3 linked regions of the Homo sapiens genome follow. The protein of the gene in region 2 purifies or fractionates together with the protein of the main gene of each other region. This does not show direct contact. Each region holds a gene or a part of one and is shown on either strand. Other genes may lie near its edges. The genes, in order: SLC39A11, BTN3A2 and PEX13.

Evidence for each region.
Region 1: the proteins of BTN3A2 (region 2) and SLC39A11 purify together in Homo sapiens (affinity purification with mass spectrometry; 2 studies listed by BioGRID and IntAct, with this or other methods). This does not show direct contact.
Region 3: the proteins of BTN3A2 (region 2) and PEX13 purify together in Homo sapiens (affinity purification with mass spectrometry; 3 studies listed by BioGRID and IntAct, with this or other methods). This does not show direct contact.

The regions. Positions count from the first base shown.
Region 1 is NC_000017.11:72,648,670-72,655,792, forward strand, and holds part of SLC39A11 (zinc transporter ZIP11), read right to left. Parts: intron 600-7,123; coding exon 501-599; intron 293-500; coding exon 134-292; intron 1-133. UniProt on the Homo sapiens protein: Zinc importer that regulates cytosolic zinc concentrations either via zinc influx from the extracellular compartment or efflux from intracellular organelles such as Golgi apparatus. May transport copper ions as well.
Region 2 is NC_000006.12:26,360,953-26,368,262, reverse strand, and holds the start of BTN3A2 (butyrophilin subfamily 3 member A2 isoform a precursor), read right to left. Parts: upstream 3,066-7,310; 5' UTR 2,927-3,065; coding exon of another isoform or gene 2,911-2,926; intron 289-2,910; exon of another isoform or gene 274-288; 5' UTR 213-273; intron 86-212; 5' UTR 81-85; coding exon 1-80. UniProt on the Homo sapiens protein: Plays a role in T-cell responses in the adaptive immune response. Inhibits the release of IFNG from activated T-cells.
Region 3 is NC_000002.12:61,048,659-61,052,552, reverse strand, and holds the end of PEX13 (peroxisome biogenesis factor 13), read right to left. Parts: coding exon 3,783-3,894; 3' UTR 563-3,782; downstream 1-562. UniProt on the Homo sapiens protein: Component of the PEX13-PEX14 docking complex, a translocon channel that specifically mediates the import of peroxisomal cargo proteins bound to PEX5 receptor.

The sequences.
Region 1 (7,123 bases), on a different chromosome or scaffold from region 2:
GATGATCTTGGGAAGGGGCAGAGAGGGGGAGGGAATAAGGAAAGGAAAGGCAAATGAAGAAAGAGCATATCCCAAGGCTGGGGTCCCAGCTGGGACTGGGACAGGGACAGACAGGGAGGGAAGGTTCTCCAACCTGATCTGGGCTTCGGGGATGATGTCGTCCATGACCACGTAGACCATGGCACCGGCAGCAAAGGCCAGAGCGTAGGGCAGGATGGGCTCAGCCAGCACCACGGCAAAGGCACCAAAGACCCCGGCCAGGGGCTCCACCATGCCGCTCAGCTGCCCATACCTAAGGAGAGAACAGAGACATTTACCACCGCAGGGGGAGGCAAGCAGACACTCCACGTGCCCAGACTGTTGGCTCAACCCTAGCACATGGATGCATGCCATTCTACGTCATATCTGAGCATGGCAGTGCAAAAGCACATCACTGTTTTGTTGAAAGAAGCCCACATGGAGGATGCTGTGACATGGCCTTGCCCTTGGGCAGCACTCACCAGAAAGCTCTCCAGGTGGAGAAGCCTGCCCCTCGCAAGGGAAGGCTGACAGCCAGGCCCTCGGGGAAATTCTGGATCCCGATTCCAATGGCCAAATTCCTGAAAAACCAAGAAAGCACATGAAGGCTGCTGTCTGGAATAGGTGCTCACACAATGGGAGTCCCTGGCCGAGGCCAAGACCTCCGTGGGTGCTAGGAAGCCAGGAGGAGACCTGTGACCTGCAGTAGGAGAGGAAGGAGAAAGGTCAGGACGTGTGTCTAGGTAAAGAGCAGGGGCTGCAGGAGGGAGTGACGTGAGCCCTCTACCCATCATGCTGTCCTGGGTCCTGGGCAGGCTCTGTCCTTACAATGCTTTGCTACAGCACAGAACACACTGGCTGGCTCTCAGGGTGCCCTGAGTTCTGCCACGTGGCTGTATAACTGCACTTTTCATTTTACTTTCTACGCCTCTGTTTCTTTTTCTTTTTTTCTTTTTCTTTTTTTTTTTTTTTGAGATGGAGTCTCGCTCTGGAGACTCCAGGCTGGAGTGCAGTGGCATGATCTCGGCTCACTGCAACCTCCACCTCCCGGGTTCAAGTGATTTCCAGCTAATTTTTGTATTTTTAGTAGAGATGGGGTTTTACCATGTTGGCCAGGCTGGTCTCCAACTCCTGACCTCAAGTGATCTGCCTGCCTTGGCCTCCCAAAGTGCTGGGATTATGGGCGTGAGCCACGGCACCCAGCCTACACCTCTGTTTCTTGTATACAATTTAGGGACAACAATATCTACCATAAAGGATTGCTGAGTGACCCAGTGACCCAATAATGCCTATCACATCCTAGCATAGAGAGGTGCTTAATGCATTTTGGTTTCTATTCTGTTACAGCACAGAAATGAGTATATCACATTTTATTCAGAGGCCACTTCAGAAATGGGACAAGGAAGTGCAGCTGCAGACGCTGATGGTGCCACAGATCTGGCTCTGGGCTCAGCTTCTCCGTGGGCTCTGCAGGTCTGGCACCATCGCTGCATTTCTTTGGGCCCCAGTGGTGCTCACAGTGATCCTCTCACCTCCTGCCTCTGCAGGACAGTGACAGGCTGTGCTGATAGATGCCTGTCTTTGAGAAGCTGCTTTCTGCACAAACCAGGCATTGGAGTGTGAGAGGAGGGAGAAGCAAAATGGGATGCGTACAAATGCAATCTGTGACCACATGCCTGGCCTCAGGGGGCTTAGTATTTAGCCATGGAGACAACACAGGCATGTACATGAAGAACCCTTATTGTGGATGCTGCAAACTACAGCAAATCAGCCAAAAGTCAACTTGCACAGGAAACAGAGGCATGAGGGAAGCAGAGGAGGGAAATGGGGCCAGTCCGAGTGCCTTAGGAAGGCCCTTTTGCACGTGAGACTCTACCTTGGCCGGACAGTTCCAAGAAGCAGCCCCTCCATGAAGGGCCATCTGATCAACAATGATCTAAAGGGCGTGAGAAGAGGGTGCCACTCGGCAAGCAATGCTGGTGTGTGGCCCGAGGGAATTGTGGGTAGATTAGATAGAGAAGAGAAACTCCACCATCACCGACTTTCAGGTCAACTGGCTCACGTCCATCCATCTTGCTGCCAATAGGAATCTACCCATTGCTGCAAGGGAGTGTTGTAGACTGGTAGCTGGGACCCCTGCCTATGACCTGCCCCAGGCTCCCGGGACTGGGACACACTCGTGGCCCTGAAGGTCCTGTCAGGCCTGATCCGGCTGAGGCCCAAGTTCCAGCCTCTAACAAAGAACACCAAGGCGAATCCCCAGTTTAGCATCTGACCTCCATTTTGTTTCAGGGTTTGGCCTTTACCCTGTTTTTTTTACCTTTATCCCCCAACTCCTGCACATGTTTCATTGAGGTTCGTAGTTCCAGATACCTCAGGAAGAAGTAGCCCCCACCTCGAGTCTGCCAGTCAAGTAGACTCTTAGGAAAAGTCCAGCCCTAACAGAATCTCATACCTGTCACCACTTAGCTCACATGTGGTTCATAGAATTAGTGCCCATCCCTTTTTGACAAGATTACAATGAGCCCCTCAGCATCTACCCATCAGCTTAAAATCTGCCCCTGTGTGCAACAGCGTTGAGAGCCACTGGCCTAAGCAGGCATCATGGGAGGTGAGGATGAGGAAAGCAGTCAAGCCCACCCCCCTCCCAGGAGCCCCTTCCCTGCTATCCCAATTCCCAACACAGGCTGGGAGCCGAGGACACCTGTGGCCACTACTGAATGCATCAGGAGCCTGCAGCCCAGGGTGCTTACTGTATACAAGATCTGATGTGGAGAGCTCTGGAGGAGATCCGGAGCAACACAGGACAGGAGTAACAAAACAGGTGGCATTAGGGGACATGGATATGTAACAGAAGTGATGGAGAATAGTGAGCACCCCGTGGCAGGGATGGTCCCCCTAGGGTGGGGTTGGGGGAAGAAGCCCTGAGCTGACTTAGGAGCTGTGGGGCCTAGACTGGCTGGGGGTGGGAAACTGTGAAGAGGGACAAAGCAGCTTCCCCAGGGGGCATCTGAAAAGTGATAGCATCCGAAAACTGATCAGTTCCTTAATAAAGGAAATATTATGGTCTCTTGGGACTGACAGAAGCATTGAGCCTGTCTCTCCAACCTGCAGGCAGAACTGTTCATGAAGTGGAGTGGACAGACAAGAAGACACCCCACCACACCAGCCCAGGACATGTCCACAAAAGCTGCATCACTCAGCATTTCCCACGAGTCTACCCAAATCCCTGTCTATATCACCCAAGTTTGTGCTCTCCTTTGACTCCTTAGAGAGGGGCTCAAACATGCTCCAACTTCATCCCTGGATCTAGGGGGCAGCAAACTTTTTCTGTCATGGGCCAGATAGTAAATATTTGAGGTTTTGCAGTCCACTGAGTCTCTGTTGCAACCACTCAACTCTGACATTGCAGGTGCAAAAGTGGCTATGGACAGTACATAAACCATTGAGTGTGGCTGTGTTCCAATAAAACTTTATCTACACAAATGAGTGGGGGGCCAGATTTGGCCCATGGGCTGCAGTTTGCTGACCCCTGCCCTGATAGCTCAGTGGCTGCAGAAAGATCTGGCAAGATGAAACCACAGACCCTGGGCATTGCAGACCCTATCTCTTCTTATGTTCTCATGGCCATGCATGTGGTAGTTGAAGTTTGGGCTTTGCAGTCTGACTTCTTCTGTCCAAATCCTGGGTCTGTGCTTTGTTAGCTGTGCTACTTTCCATTTCTCCAACTGCAGAATTTGAAGAACAATACCCACCCTCACTTCACAGCGTTGCTGATATGATTACCTGGGATGGTCCCTCTCAAGCCCTTAGCACACGGGAGCTAGTATGCAGTAAGCACGTAATCAATGCCTGTCCTGGGGTGAGGGTGAGTGTTATCACTGAGGTTGCAGCGTGAAATAACAGAGACAGGGACTTAAAGCTTTTCCAAGAACTCATGCGTCCTCTTTCCAAGAGAGACTAAGATTTTCTACCCTAAAGCCAAAACTCATTCCTCTGCAAAGCTCTGTTTCAAAGAGACCTGGCTTGGCTGTTTTGCTTATGGCTCATCTATGCTTGAGTTTCCATCGGCACTCACTCATTTGCTCTTGTTGACACTTGTGTGAGATTTTTACATCACTTGTAAGATTTTGGTGAGAACCACTGTGCAACCTGAAGGCATTTCAGATACTGTGTTCCTATATACTGCTTGGTCTGTTTGGGTTGTACAGAAACTCCCGGGAGATGTGGATTCTTGCTTCTCCTAGGCTGGCACATATAGAAGAATTCCTTCTATCACCTCCAGACCCCCCTGAGCCCCAGTAAATGTCTGGAGGCTGGACGCTTCCCTGGGCACAGAGGAGGGGAGAGCTGCTGGAAGGGAGTAGGGGGCATTCTGATGAGCCTGGTGGGCTTGACTCTTCTGTTGCACGCTTTTTTTTTCTTTTTTTTTTTTGAGATGGAGTCTCGCTCTGTCATCCAGGCTAGAGTGCACTGGCACGATCTCAGCTCACTGCAGCCTTCACCTCTGGGGTTCAAGCGATTCTCCTGCTTCAGCCTCCCGAGTAGCTGGGATTACAGGCATGTGCCACCACACCCCCCTATTTTTTTTTTGTATTTTTAGCAGAGACAGGGTTTCAGAATATTAGCCAGGCTGGTCTCAAACTCCTGACCTCAGATGATCCACCTGCCTCAGCCTTGAAAAGTGCTGGGATTACAGGTATGAGCCACTGCACCCTTTTTTTTTGTTTTGGTTTTTCTTTTCTTTTCTTTTCTTTTTTTTTTTTTGAGAAGGAGTCTCGCTCTGTCACCCAGGCTGAAGTGGTGCAGTGGCGTGATCTCAGCTCACTGCAACCTCCGCCTCATGGGTTCAAGCGATTCTCCTGCCTCAGCCTCCCCAGTAGCTGGGATTACAAGTGCCCACCACCACGCCCAGCTAATTTTTGTATTTTTAGTAGAGATGGGGTTTTACCATGTTGGCCAGGGTGGTCTCGAACTCCTGACCTCAGGTAATCTGCTCGACTCGGCCTCCCAAAGTGCGGGATTACAGGTGTGAGTCACCTCACCCGGCCTGCTGCACTTTAAAGTATGGAAAGCTCCATTGGATAATTGAGCCCTGGGGGTCACCTCTGAAGATTTTGTCCTGGGCAGCTGGGGACAGTTTTACACTTCCCTGAGAAGTGCTTCTAGGAGGTGAGGCCCTGGGCAGGAAGTCAACTGTAGCTTACATATCCTCCACATAGTCTTGATCTGTCCTAGTTCAACAGGAGAGAAGGATTTGGAGAAATGAGACAGGATGAAAAAGGAAATCTAGCTACAGATGTTTAGGAAAAAGGTGTCATTCTGGTCCCTTGTGTTTAAAATGTGCGTGTGTGTGCGGAAGGGTGGGGCATGGGGAGTGAGCGGGTGGCCCTGCTTAGCCATCTTGCTTTTCCTTATTTTCTGGGTCCCTAACATGTCTTCCTAGCCAGTCTATAGGGGCAGGACAAAAGGGTCAGGAGCTCTCTTCCTCACCTTGAAAGGTCCTAGGCTCCCCTCTTCTGCTGCTCTGCCAGGGAGGGTGATGGGTGCCGCTTCTGGCATTGGGTATAGGATCGGAGTTAATGGCCTCACTTCTTCCCTCTGGGGCCCCAGGCCTAGGACTCGAAAGCTAGCTTTGGAAGACACTGTTGAACGTTGCTTCAGTTATAGGATGCTGACAAGCGTGTTCTAACCAGCCCTGGGCAGAAATGCGGCCTGTTCTCGCAGCTTCTGCTACCAATTTCATGTGCAAGCTGACCCTGAGCTCCTATTCCAGGAGTTGGAGACATGTGAATATATTTATGTTGAGGACAAATTCTTAAGGATAAATTCTTGCCAATATTTCATAAGCCCCTGCCCCGCCTTCCCAGATAGACCCTCAGGGGGGCCCCTTCCCTGCGACTTTGTTCAGCATCTCCTTGTAGCCCTCAAAATGGTTGAGTGAATACAACCAGCTTCCTTGACCTTTTGCAAAGTCCGAAGTGCAAGGTTTCTTTCCAATGAGGAAGGCCAAGGCTTCTGATATCTTGGGCTTTGCCAGGCACTTGGTGGCTGGCTCTCAGTCCGCTGCCATTGCCTGCACCTCATATTCACAGGCAGGCACACGAAGGTAGCCGCAGAGTGACCAGCCCAATGTCACTGACAAATCAGAGGTGGGGCTCCCCATCCAAAGTCCTCGCCGTGACATAGCGCTGACTACAGCCATCGCCCGGCGGGCTGTGGGAGCCTCCTCCACATCCTGTCTGGGAGCCACCATCCTGATAAGCAGCACAGAAACCCCATTCTTCCATCCCTGGCAAGCCTCGTTACCTCTGCCTTGCCCCAGCCCTGGCACGGGGCTGCCAGCCCAAACAGCTGCCATGCCCTCTGGATCCTGCCAGGCCTTTCTCAGCAGGGCATTGCATTGCTGGGCGGTCAGAGTCCCTCCTGACACTCCTGGGCTCCTTTGCTCCCCAGCAGGGGCTGGCACCACAGTTTCTCTGCCTTTCCTACCTGTCATGCACAACACTGCCTAACTGGGCTCTCCTCCACACACCCGTGCACACGCACAGGCCCATCCAAGTTCCCTCGCCCCGCTGCTTGTTGGGCATTGGTCAGAGGCCCACTGGTGGGGGTGGCCCAGTGGAGGACACAGTCCCTTCCAGCCCTCTCCTCTTCTTCAATCACCTGCATCAGCTCCAGAGTGGGATTTGAATCCACGGCTCTCAGACCTGACGACACATGCCAGTCACAGGGAGCACCGGCAAATGCCGATGCCTCGGCCCTGCCCTGGAGATCTCGGTTTATTGCCGTGGCATTGGGCCCCCTGTGTGCAGATTTTAAGAGTGTGCGAGGGCGTTGAGAGCCACTGGCCTAAGCAGGTGTCAGAGGAGGTGAGGATGAGGATGGAGGCCAAGCCCGCCTCCCTCCCAGGAGCCCCTTCCCTGCTATTCGAATTCCCAACACAGTCTGGGAGCCGAGGACACCTGTGGCCACTACTGAATGCATCAGGAGCCTGCAACCGGGGTGCTTACTATATACAAGATCTGATCTGGGGAGCTTTGGAGGAGATCTGGAGCAACTGAGGGCAGGAGCAGCAAAGCAGGTGGTATTCGGGGATATGGAT
Region 2 (7,310 bases):
CAAGGAGTGAGCAGCTGGACCAAGAGGAGGGAGACATGAAAGTTGAGCAGAAGGAAAGCCAGGGAACTTGCCATTTTCATCTATGCTGCATATCAAGAGATACCAGAAGGTGTGGGACAGACACTATGGCCTGGAAGAAGCTTTAGGATTCTGCATGGAAATGTCCACTTCCCCAGGGCTAACTCAAATATGGTGACCGAAGAAGATCTTACCTCTGCCAAAAATGTCTGTCCTTGAGTGTCTTTACCTTTGGGTTCCAGTATGGAAAACCATCTGTAAAAATAATATCTGTTATCTGATCAGGACATCTCTGACTCTACTGCATTAAAATATTAAAATATTCATAATCCTATCACTTCCCCACACTTCCCTTGCCAGGTCCAAGCTTCCATCATCCCCCTCTGATTCATGAAGGACCCTCTTCACTGGATTCCCTGGTCCCACCCTTGTTCAGCTCTGTGGGTGTCCAACACTATGGACTCCTCAAGCGTCAAACTCTTGGCCATTACTACAGTCAACTTATGGCCTGGTGGCTCCTGGTGGGATCCAGGCAGACTGCCTGGCAGAGGCTCTGAAGTCAGTCAGGGGCTGAACCCACCACGTTTAATCACAAAGATATTGATTAGGAGAGCTTTGAATAAGACCAGGCTTTACTCATCTTTTCTTTCTTCCCTTCATAAAGTTATTCAACAAATATTTACTGAGCACCCACAATGGGCTGGACCCACTATGGTAGAGTTAGGAACACAAAGAGGGTAGACAATAGGTAAAGGCTCTACAAGTCACAAGCTTGATGATCTCAGTCATGGGACAAAACCATTTCAACTTTAGTTACTCAAAAATATCGAGTATGAGACTTAGAATGTTCACAATTGGCCCAGCAATTCCACTTCCTGATGGTTACTTCAGCGAAGTACTCGCATGGGTGCAGAGAGAAGCCTCTGTGGGAATGACACTGCAGCACTATTTTTAAAGTATAAAAGTGGTTACCAACTGAACCAGCCACTCACAAGAGACTGGTTAGAGGAATGATGGCTCATCCCTAGGAGGAAATTCAATGCAGCAGTTAAAAAGAGTGATTTAATGTCACTAGCCTGGATAATGGAGATATACTAAGTGATTAAAAAGCACCTTGCAGAACTATACTAATGATTCAATTGAAAAACAAAAGCAAAGCTATACATTTCTGCATAACTATATATGTAAATGCCTGAAAAAGTCTAAAATGATGGATGCTAAACTGAAAATTGGAGGTTAAGTGAGTGAAAGGACGCTTTGGCCTTTTGCTTCCTTTACTTTTAAAATTATTGGAATGCTTTAAGTTTAAAATTTTCATGTATTAGTTAATAACTAATTATTATGAGGAATAATAGTGACTGGAACATATTAGCTGCTCAGTAAATACTAACTCCTCAACAGTTTCTCCCAAAACAAAGGAGCATGAGGCCTGCAGCCATCATACCAGCTGCTGTGGGTCTGGGAATGGCCTCTGAGAACAAGGTCTGCAGATGGAGGTGGGGAGAGATGTAGAGGAAGCAAGGGAACAGAGGTCTGTGCAGCTGGTCATGCTCCACCCCTGCCTGGATCTTGCATCCACCATCAGACTAAACATTATATTTCACCACATCTTCTGCTCCTCGAAACTGCTCTTTATTCTCCTAAGGAGAAGGAGGTATTATTAAGCTAAGCTAAAAATTTCTCTGCTGTCCTCAGAGGGAGAACTTTTATTTTTTAGGTTATTTATTATTCATTCTTTCTACTATAGACAATTTTGCCAAAGAAAAAAATATAAAGGAATAAAACCTTAAATACTCTGTAGTTATATACTTTGCTAATGGAAGTGGAAATGTTTCTGGAAGCATTTGGCCATGTACACATGGCAAGTGCCTTTAAAATGTTGTATTATTTGCCCCCAAAATTCCAACTATAAAAGTTAGTGTTGAAGAAAAAAATTTAGAGATTGATGCAAATATTTATGGATAAGGCTGTTCAATCTAGTAAAATCTACAGTAACAAAATGTAGAAACTGAAAAATCCAAAATAAAGAGTTTTAAAAATAATTCGGGTTTTTTATTTGTTTGTTTGTTCTTTTTTCTTCTTTAGGAGCGGCTTTCTGAGTCAGAGTAGGCTCACAGAGACTCCCAATAATTATATATTCATACAATGTAGTAGCTTGTAACCATGGGAAATCATGCTTTAGGTTTTGGGGAAATGATGAATGGAAAGAAAACCAAGTACTATCCCTAAAAGATACCAAAAATGGTTTAATATAAGGATCCAGTGTTATTAAAATTATAAAGAATTTCACTTAATTAAAATTATGATTCCTAATGGTTACATGGAACATGTTTTATGACTGAACCATGCATTGTTTGTCTATTCCCCACCTGTTGAATATGTATGTTGGTTCAGATTTTACTATATTATAAATACTTCTGTAATAAACACATTTACATATAAATCTATGAGGCACATCTCTTTTTTCTTCTTCTTCTTCAGAATTTCTCAGAATAGATGCCTTGAGTTGGCCAGAACAGATTTTAAGGGTTTTTTGTTTGTTTGTTTGTTTGCCCTTTTCTGACCACAATACGTTAAGAACATGCAGTTGGAATATTTCTTCATTCATGTTGTCTCCCTTTCCTTCCACTAAATCCCAACCTCTGCAGTTCCTTATACTTTGCAGTACTTCTCCCGTCTTCCCACGTGCCCATATGTGCATGTGCGAGTGTGCACATGTACACATGTACACACACACACACACACACACACACACACACACACACACACAGGCACTGCACCCCTTTCTCTGGGAGAGTACTCTCCCTGCATGCCCACTCACCACTCTCAGCGATTCAGCCCCGCTCCTCCCATGCGTTGTAGCCCAGGCTCTAATCAATTTCCTGCACTTACCCCTTGGTATTCCCATTGGAGAATCAGAGCCCACAGAATAAAGACGGTCAATCAATAATTCTCCATTCTTTCTATTATGGCTTAGCCTCTCATCCGGAAGAAAGGAAAAAGAGAAAGCAAATATTGTCTTCTCACCATGAGAAACAGTAAGAGTCGCTCTTTGGAAGAATTAGTTTTTTGATTGGCTCAGAGGTGATGTTTCTCATCAGTTGCTGGGCAGAAACCACTGAGGAACGTTGAAATGAAAACTGAAAGTACATTGAATTGTACACGTTGAGGAAAAACTCCAGCCCTACCTCCCTTAGTGTTTGTGTTTCTGTGTTTATCTATTTGAATCATTCTTGTGCGTGGATGTATATAAGTATTTCTTTATATTCACCTGTCTCGTGTCTTTTACATGGTAATAGAAATATTAGCAGAATGGAGTAGGAAAGTAAAAAAATTTAATGTGCAAAGAGAGGAAGATGTGCACTAATTAAGATGCTTCTGTGGCAGTTTGCTTGCATGTAGATAGGTACGTAGAAGAGGAGGATCTTTTTTACAGAGCCTAATAAAGGTATGAATGGAAAGAAAATGAGACAAACTGCACCTCTTTAAGAACTTCTGGCATTTAGGCTTAGGATATGGTATCAAATAATATAATTTTTCTGATTTCCAGAGGCAGTGCTGCTTGACATTGTTTTACCTTTCCCAGGAAATTCTTACTGCAGATCTTTCTGAGCATCTTCATTCACCCTCAGCTCCTGGTTTGTGCTATATTGTATTTTCTTGGGTATTTGTTTCTCACGCTGCCAGTGGAGTACATATTCTCTGAAGCTAGACACTCCATAGGCTGTGGTCTCTGTAAGGCTCGTTTCCTGTACACCATCTCTGTAAGGAGTTTATGGGACAATCTTGTTCTCCCTGTGGCTTACGACCTCAAAACACACTTTTTTGGGCTGCAAGCCAGAAATCTCCTAGAGCTAATATGTGACTGGAGCTGATGGGATTTGATTATATTGCAACAGTTTGAATTTAGGCTGTGTGGTATCTGCTTGAGATGGCTGGTTGCTTCTGCAGCGTGCATGCCCCCTTCTTCTTAGTGACAAGGCCTAATTTTCTGGGGTACTGCATCCTGCTCTTCCCCCTTGAAGATAGGGCAGGCCAAGGGACTAAGTTGGAGCCAGCGGTTTGTAGGTGAAAGTTGTGGGCTTGTACTTCTCCCAGAAATCCTTCAAAGGGAGGCCAAAATAGCTGGGAGTGTGAGGGTACACTCTCCCTTCTTCCTTCTTCCTCTTGCCTAGAACATGGACTTTGGACCCGGAGGTGCAGTAGCCCACCCTGGGACCATGAGGCAGCCTTGAGGTTGGAAGCCACACACTGGGACAGCAGAGAATGAAGTCAGAAGCAGGCTGGGGCATGAATGACATATCTGAGGTGCCAGATCAGCCCTGGACTGTCACCATCTAAATTTATTTAAAAAATTTTTTCTTTTAAAATATTTTATTATATATTAGTACTCAGGGTAAATTTCCAAATAAGTTTGTTTTTCATGAAAGGAAAACAAATCCTTGTTTTATTTAAGCCAGTGGTACTTCTGGTCTCTGTTATCAACAGAAAAACACAATTTTTCCCTCCCCCTTCCCCCTCCCCAACAGTTTATTATAAAACTTCTAAAACATATAGCAAAGGTGAAAGAATTTCAGTAAATTCCAATATATCTACCATGTAGATTGTATAATTAATATTTTAGTTTCTTACTTTATTATAAATCCATCCTGCTGTTCACCCCTATTCATCCATCAATATTTGTTTATTTGTTCATTTGTTTATTTTTAAATTCAGACTCTATCAGAAGCTGTGCTGCTTGAGATCGTATTAGTAAGAATGAACATCCCACCTTTGCCTGGAGGGTCCAAGTCACTTTGACACAAAGAAGCAGCCAATGTGCTAAGCTTCAGATTAGGAGTTTCTGAGCCCAACTCTTCATATCTCTGAACTTTGTAGTTTCCAAACTATGAGACCCCTAAGTTCATTTCTCACTCAATGTCTTTGTTTCTTCAGCTATGGGTAGGGATGTGACCTGCTTCTTAAGTTGTTTGGGGAGAACCTAGCACAGCACCTGCACATATTAACTCTTTATGAATGTCATTATTTTCCATTATGAAAGGTTCGGTATCAGCTGGTGCCTGTTGTGGAGTTGGAGTTTTAGTTTGAAGGTGAAGAGAAAATCTTTTTTAAAAATGGCATGAGAAAATGTGTACATTGGAAACAATAGTGTGAAAGGTGCCAGGGAAGATGGGAAGTAAGAGTGCCATTTACATTGTATTCTGTGGAATGATGACGCTATGATTACACAATATAGCCAGTCCTCATTAGAGAATCAGATGGTAGAAGACAAGGAGACCAGGAAGAAAGCTACTGTGACACTCCAGGCAAGAAATGATGAGGCCTTAGGGATGGAGGAGAGGGAAGAGGATTGATTATTATTCTTAATAATAGCTTATACTCACATAGAACCTACCGTGATGTTGGTATTGTGCTTAGAGGTTTACATGCATGAATAATACTTTTGCTTTGTGAAGTTCTGAGCAGAGAAGCCCACTAAGCTCTGCCTGGACTTCTGACCCACAGAAACTGAAGTGATAAAAGTGTACTGTTATTTATTTATTTATTTTTGAGGCAGAGTCTCGCTGTGTTGCCCAGGCTGGAGTGCAGTGGCACAATCTTGGCTCACTGCAACCTCCACTTCCTGGGTTCTAGCAATTCTTGTGCCTCAGCCTACCAAGTAGCGGGGATTATAGGTGTGTGCCACCACGCTGGGCTAATTTTTTATCTTTTATTTTTTGCGTTTTCAGTAGAGATGGGGTTTCATCATGTTGCCCAGGCTGGAAAAGTGTACTGTTTTAAACCACTAAGTTTGTGGTAATTTGTTATGCAGCAATAAATCACGAATGCATTAGGTAAGTGAAACACACAGTGGCAACAAACATGAATATAAAGAAGACAAAGAGAATAACTTGTGTTTCCAGCCCTGACCCGTTGCCTGGACTGCAAGCTTATTATTGACCTGCCTACTCTACATCTCCACGGGAATCTCTAGTAAGCTCCTCAAACCCAACATATTCAAAACTGACCTTTGGATTCTGTGCTGGCTCCTCCTCTGGCCTCCACAAGCGGTTTCTCCCTCATTTTCCCCATCTCAGTAAGTGGCAACTCCATCTGTACCGTTTCTTAGGACCAAAACCTTGTGGTCACCCTTGATGCCCTCCTTTTTCACACCCCACCTGTAAGTTTATCAGCAAAGCCTTTTTATTCTATCTTGAAAATAAATCCAGCATCATAACATTTTCATGGCTCCTCCCTGGTACAAGTCATCTGCATCTTTCCCCTGGATCACTGCAGTAGCTCCCAGCTGGGTCTTCAGGCCTCCATCCACCACCCCTACCCACAGCCCATCTTGGTCTAGCATGTGAAGTAACTTCTTAAAACATAAGTCAGTCCAGTCCTTTTTCTGCTCTAACCTTCCAGTGGCTCCCCTCTCAGAGGTAAAGCCCAGGTCAGCATGATGACTTTCAAGGCCATACATGATCTGGCCCTCAACCCCCTCTGGCCTTGTCACCTCCTCTTCTCCTGATCACCCTGTGTGCTCTGCGCACCCCAGCCTCATTGCTTTTCTTCACACAAACCACAGTGCTTCTGCCTCTGTGCTCTGGCACTGCTGTTCTCTCAACTCGGAATGCTTTTCTCCCAAGTATTCTGTGCCTCGCTCCCCTTGCTCATAACCACCCTATTTTAAACTGTAACTTCCAACCGGGAACGAGGGCTTACAGGTGTAATCACAGGACCTTGAAAGATCGAGGGAGGAGAATTGCATGAGGCCAGGAGTTCAAGAACCTGGGCAGTATGCATAGCAAGATCTCTGTCTTTCAAAAAAAAAAAAAATTAGGCTGCAGTGAGCTATGATCACTCCAATGTACTCTAGCCTGAACAACAGAGCAAGACCCCTTCAAAAAGAAATGCAAGTTCTGCTATTCCAGGTTTATTTCTCTCCTGAGCACTTATCATCATCCAGCACACCATATATATTACTAATTATTTCATTTCCTGTCTGCCTCCTACCACAAGTTATGTTGTTTTTGAATGAGAACTTTCTGTTTTGTTCACTTCTGTGACTCCACCACCTAGAATAGTGACTGGCACATAGTTAGCGTTCATGGATCCTTGTCAAATGAATGAATTAATGAATTGACCAAATAGAGAAGCCTGAGGGAAGCTGGGGTGGGGGCTCCCCGATGTGGGTGCAGAATTAGCCTGAGACAGGAGAAAGAACACCTGCTTGTTGAAATCAGAGGAAACAGATCATGAGGGACAGGTATAGGTGGTGGAGCAGGAAGTTTGGGACCTCCCTTTTCTATTTT
Region 3 (3,894 bases), on a different chromosome or scaffold from region 2:
TAATGGGACTTAAATCTTACAGTAAGCAGTGATGTCTAAACTAGAATCTAGATCCCCCAAAATCTAGGTATGAAGTGTTTTTATTTAACACACCTGTAGGTAATTCTATATAAATGTATTATTTTTCTTTTTTTTTTGTTTTTTTCTTTTTAGATGGAGTCTCGCTCTGTCGCACAGACTGGAGTGCAGTGGCGCGATCTCGGCTCACTGCAATCTCTGCCTCCCAGGTTCAAGCAATTCTCCTGCCTCAGCCTCCCAAGTAGCTGGGACTACAGGCACCCACCGCCACACCTGGCTAATTTTTGTATTTTTAGTAGAGACGGGGTTTCATCATATTGGTCAGGCTGGTCTCGAACTCCTGACCTTGTGATCCGCCCGCCTTGGCCTCCCAAAGTGCTGGGATTATAGGTGTGAGCCACAATGCCTGGCCTATTTTTCTTTAAATCACAAAGAAACAGAACAGATAGGTTTGCAGTAGGTAATATATACAATAATGTTAAAGAGATACTTCATATTAATTCTAATCCTGCAAAAGTGTTAACAATTTATCTTAAAAAGTCAATCAAGTTTAACATATTTTTATTTCTCCAGTAAAAGTAACTTCACAACCTACTAAAAATAAAAATTTAACTGCATTCAGTTTCTGTTCATTTTTCTATTAAAGAAAGCACAAGATAAAGGATAGCTGTGTTCAAGTAAATGTGTAATTATGACACAGACAGAATCAAGTACGTACATAAAATGTTAAAACATGAAAATGTATAGTTCTTTTACCATTTCCTTTCTGAACTCATAAAATATAATCAGAAAAATTAAAAGAAACATGTTTTATTATTGTAAACTTATATTTTATTTAATTAATAATGTTTTGGTGTGTTAGTAATTTCTGTAAAGTAGCACTCCTTAAATAAGTTCCTAAAAATAATATTGGAGCCTTGAACATTTAATCTCAGCTAAAAAAATTATTCTAAAACTGTCATGATAAAAAAGGTTACAAAATTTCTCTTTATTCTAGTCCTGAATTCCTTCTCCAGAATTTTAATACAAAACGAATTTTCAGGCACAAATAGTCACCAGATAATGCATACCGTAATTTAGCAGACTTAACCAAACAATAAACACCCCTACAAAAGTGTCACTATTTTATCACTTTGTGCTGTACTCTTCTCCCTATACATCTTTAATAGTGGTCACTTCTACTTTACTTCTAGCATTCAATTTAGACATCTCAACCCCAAATTTAATAATCTGTTTTATCAAACATTTGTTTTGAGAACAAAATTTCTATAAATTATCTGACAAATCAAAGCAGAACCTTTAATTGTAGAACACAAATGAAAAATAATATACAAGAAACCTTATCTCTTCAACTTCAAGGCTAATACCTGGGTGTTGGAAAACTGGCCAAAGATAAATAAATTTTACTATATTTATTTTTCTGCACTGGGTCAAGATTTCTATTATAAATGATATGTTACTTACGATACTGTCGTTTCAAAAAAGGGCTTTCCAAGAAGCCTTTAGTAAAGTTCTTCTATGCTGGGTATGTACTTGGTTCCTGTATGTTTTAATCTGAACTATTCGAGAATTACTTATTTGTTGAACATAGTCTATTAGAAAAAAATACTAAATCGCTGGGTGCGGTGGCTCACGCCTGTAATCCCAACACTTTGGGAGACCGAAGCGGGCTCATCACGAGGTCAGGAGATGGAGACCATCCTGGGTAACACGGTGAAACCCCGTCTCTACTAAAAATACAAAAAAAATTAGCCGGGCCTGGTGGCAGGCGCCTGTAGTCCCAGCTACTCGGGAGGCTGAGGCAGGAGAATGGCGTGAACCCGGGAGGCGGAGCTTGCAGTGAGCCGAGATCGCGCCACTGGACTCCAGCCTGGGCGACAGAGTGAGACTCCGTTTCAAAAAAAGACAAAAGAAAAAATACTAAATCACAATTTTTATCAAACAGTTCAAAGTTTTCAACAATATCTATAAATGTATTCTTATACACCTGTATTCCTGATAGTATTACTCTGTAGTATGTTCGTAGCCAAGTATATGAAGTTTCCAATTTTCTGGGGAAATATTCAGTGTACTGAAAGTTAACTGCATTTAAAATCATTATAAACCAAAAAACACGTCAAATAGCATTATCGTATTATTATTTTTTGTTTGTTTGTTTTGAGACAGAGTCTTGCTCTGTCCCCTAGGCTGGAGTGCAGTGGCATGATCTCAGCTCCCTGCAACCTCTGCCTCCCGGGTTCAAGTGATTCTCCTGCCTCAGCCTCCTGAGTAGCTGGGACTACAGGTGCACGCCACTGCACCCAGCTAATTTTCGTATTTTTAGTAGAGACAGGGTTTCACCGTGTTGGCCAGGCTGGTCTCAAACTCCTGACCGCAGGTGATCCGCCCGCCTTGGCCTCCCAAAGTGCTGAGATTAAAGGCATGAGGATTATCATATTCTAAATGGCAATAGAGCACTAAGACTATAAATAAGTCTCAGTAGTAAAAACTAAACCTAAAAGAAAAATGTATCCAATGTGACACATTTTCAATATTTACAGAGCATCCTAAATATGGAATTTAAAAAATTACACAAGGTAGAAGCAAACAATCTATGAAAATATTAAAAATTACTATTATAACTGATTATATCATTAAGTGCAAACTCAAAAGAACTCAAGTATTTGTTGTAGGAAAAGAAAGTATACCTTTCATATACTTCTGATTCACCCAGTATGAAAACTAGTCATATTTTAAAGAAATAAATAATTTTATTTTTTGAGATGGAGTTTCGCTTTTGTTGCCCAGGCTGAAGTGCAATGGCGAGATCTCCGGCTCAGCGTAACCTCCGCCTCCTGGGGTTCAAGCAATTCTCCTGCCTCAGCCTCCCGAGTAGCTGGGATTACAGGCATGTGCCACCACACCTAGCTAATTTTGTATTTTTCGTAAAGATGGGGTTTCTCCATGTTGGTCAGGGTGGTCTTGAACTCCCAACCTCAGGTGATCTGCCCGCCTCAGCCTCCCAAAGTGCTGGGATTACAGGCGTGAGCCACCATGCCTGGCTTAAAGAGATAAATAATTAAGGGATCCTTAGAAGAAATGGAACAGTTTGTAAGAAAGATAAATTTCAGACTTTTTGCTAGGAGGGAAAACTATTAGGGCTACATACTCTATAATTCTAGAACCATTTCCTTCAGAATGCTTCTGGGTGACCTTTTCAAATTAAATTTTTAAAAATACAGTAAAAGATAGCAGTGTCAGTTGTTTGTGGGTGAAAATATAAACCCAACACTGGATATAATACAGATCAGAAAATTTTATTATTGAGATTACTTAAGGTTGTAAAAAAAAAAAAAAATTTACCTTTTGCCTGTTCTCATACTGACATGTCACCACTCCATTTCTAAGGATTCCAAGTCAATTAATGCAGAACTTTTAAAAGTATTAATGATCTCTACTGTACCAAACTGTGCATGCTATAGTTCATCAATCTTACTCTTCCAATAAACCTAGAGATTTAAATAAGATAAAAATGACAGCAGTCTCCATAATCTTAAAATCTAGGTGAAACAAATGTCCTTATGGTCCAATAATGTGTATAATAAAATGTAACCAGGTCACCAGACCAACATACTAGTGTGTAACTTTAATAATTTCTAGCAGCAAAACACCTGAAATAGCCAATAACAAATGTTTTCATTGGATTGTACATTCATTTCTTTGTGAGAAATAATTTTAAAAAGTACTCTAAAGTATTGTTCAACTGCAGGCAAACATGAAAGATATCAAAGATCTTGCTTTTCTCCATCTTTCCCAATGGAATCAGGTGCAACTGGAACCTTATTAGTTTCAACAAAAACAGATTCAAAGGCAGCTTCCTGTTCATCCAAAGAATCA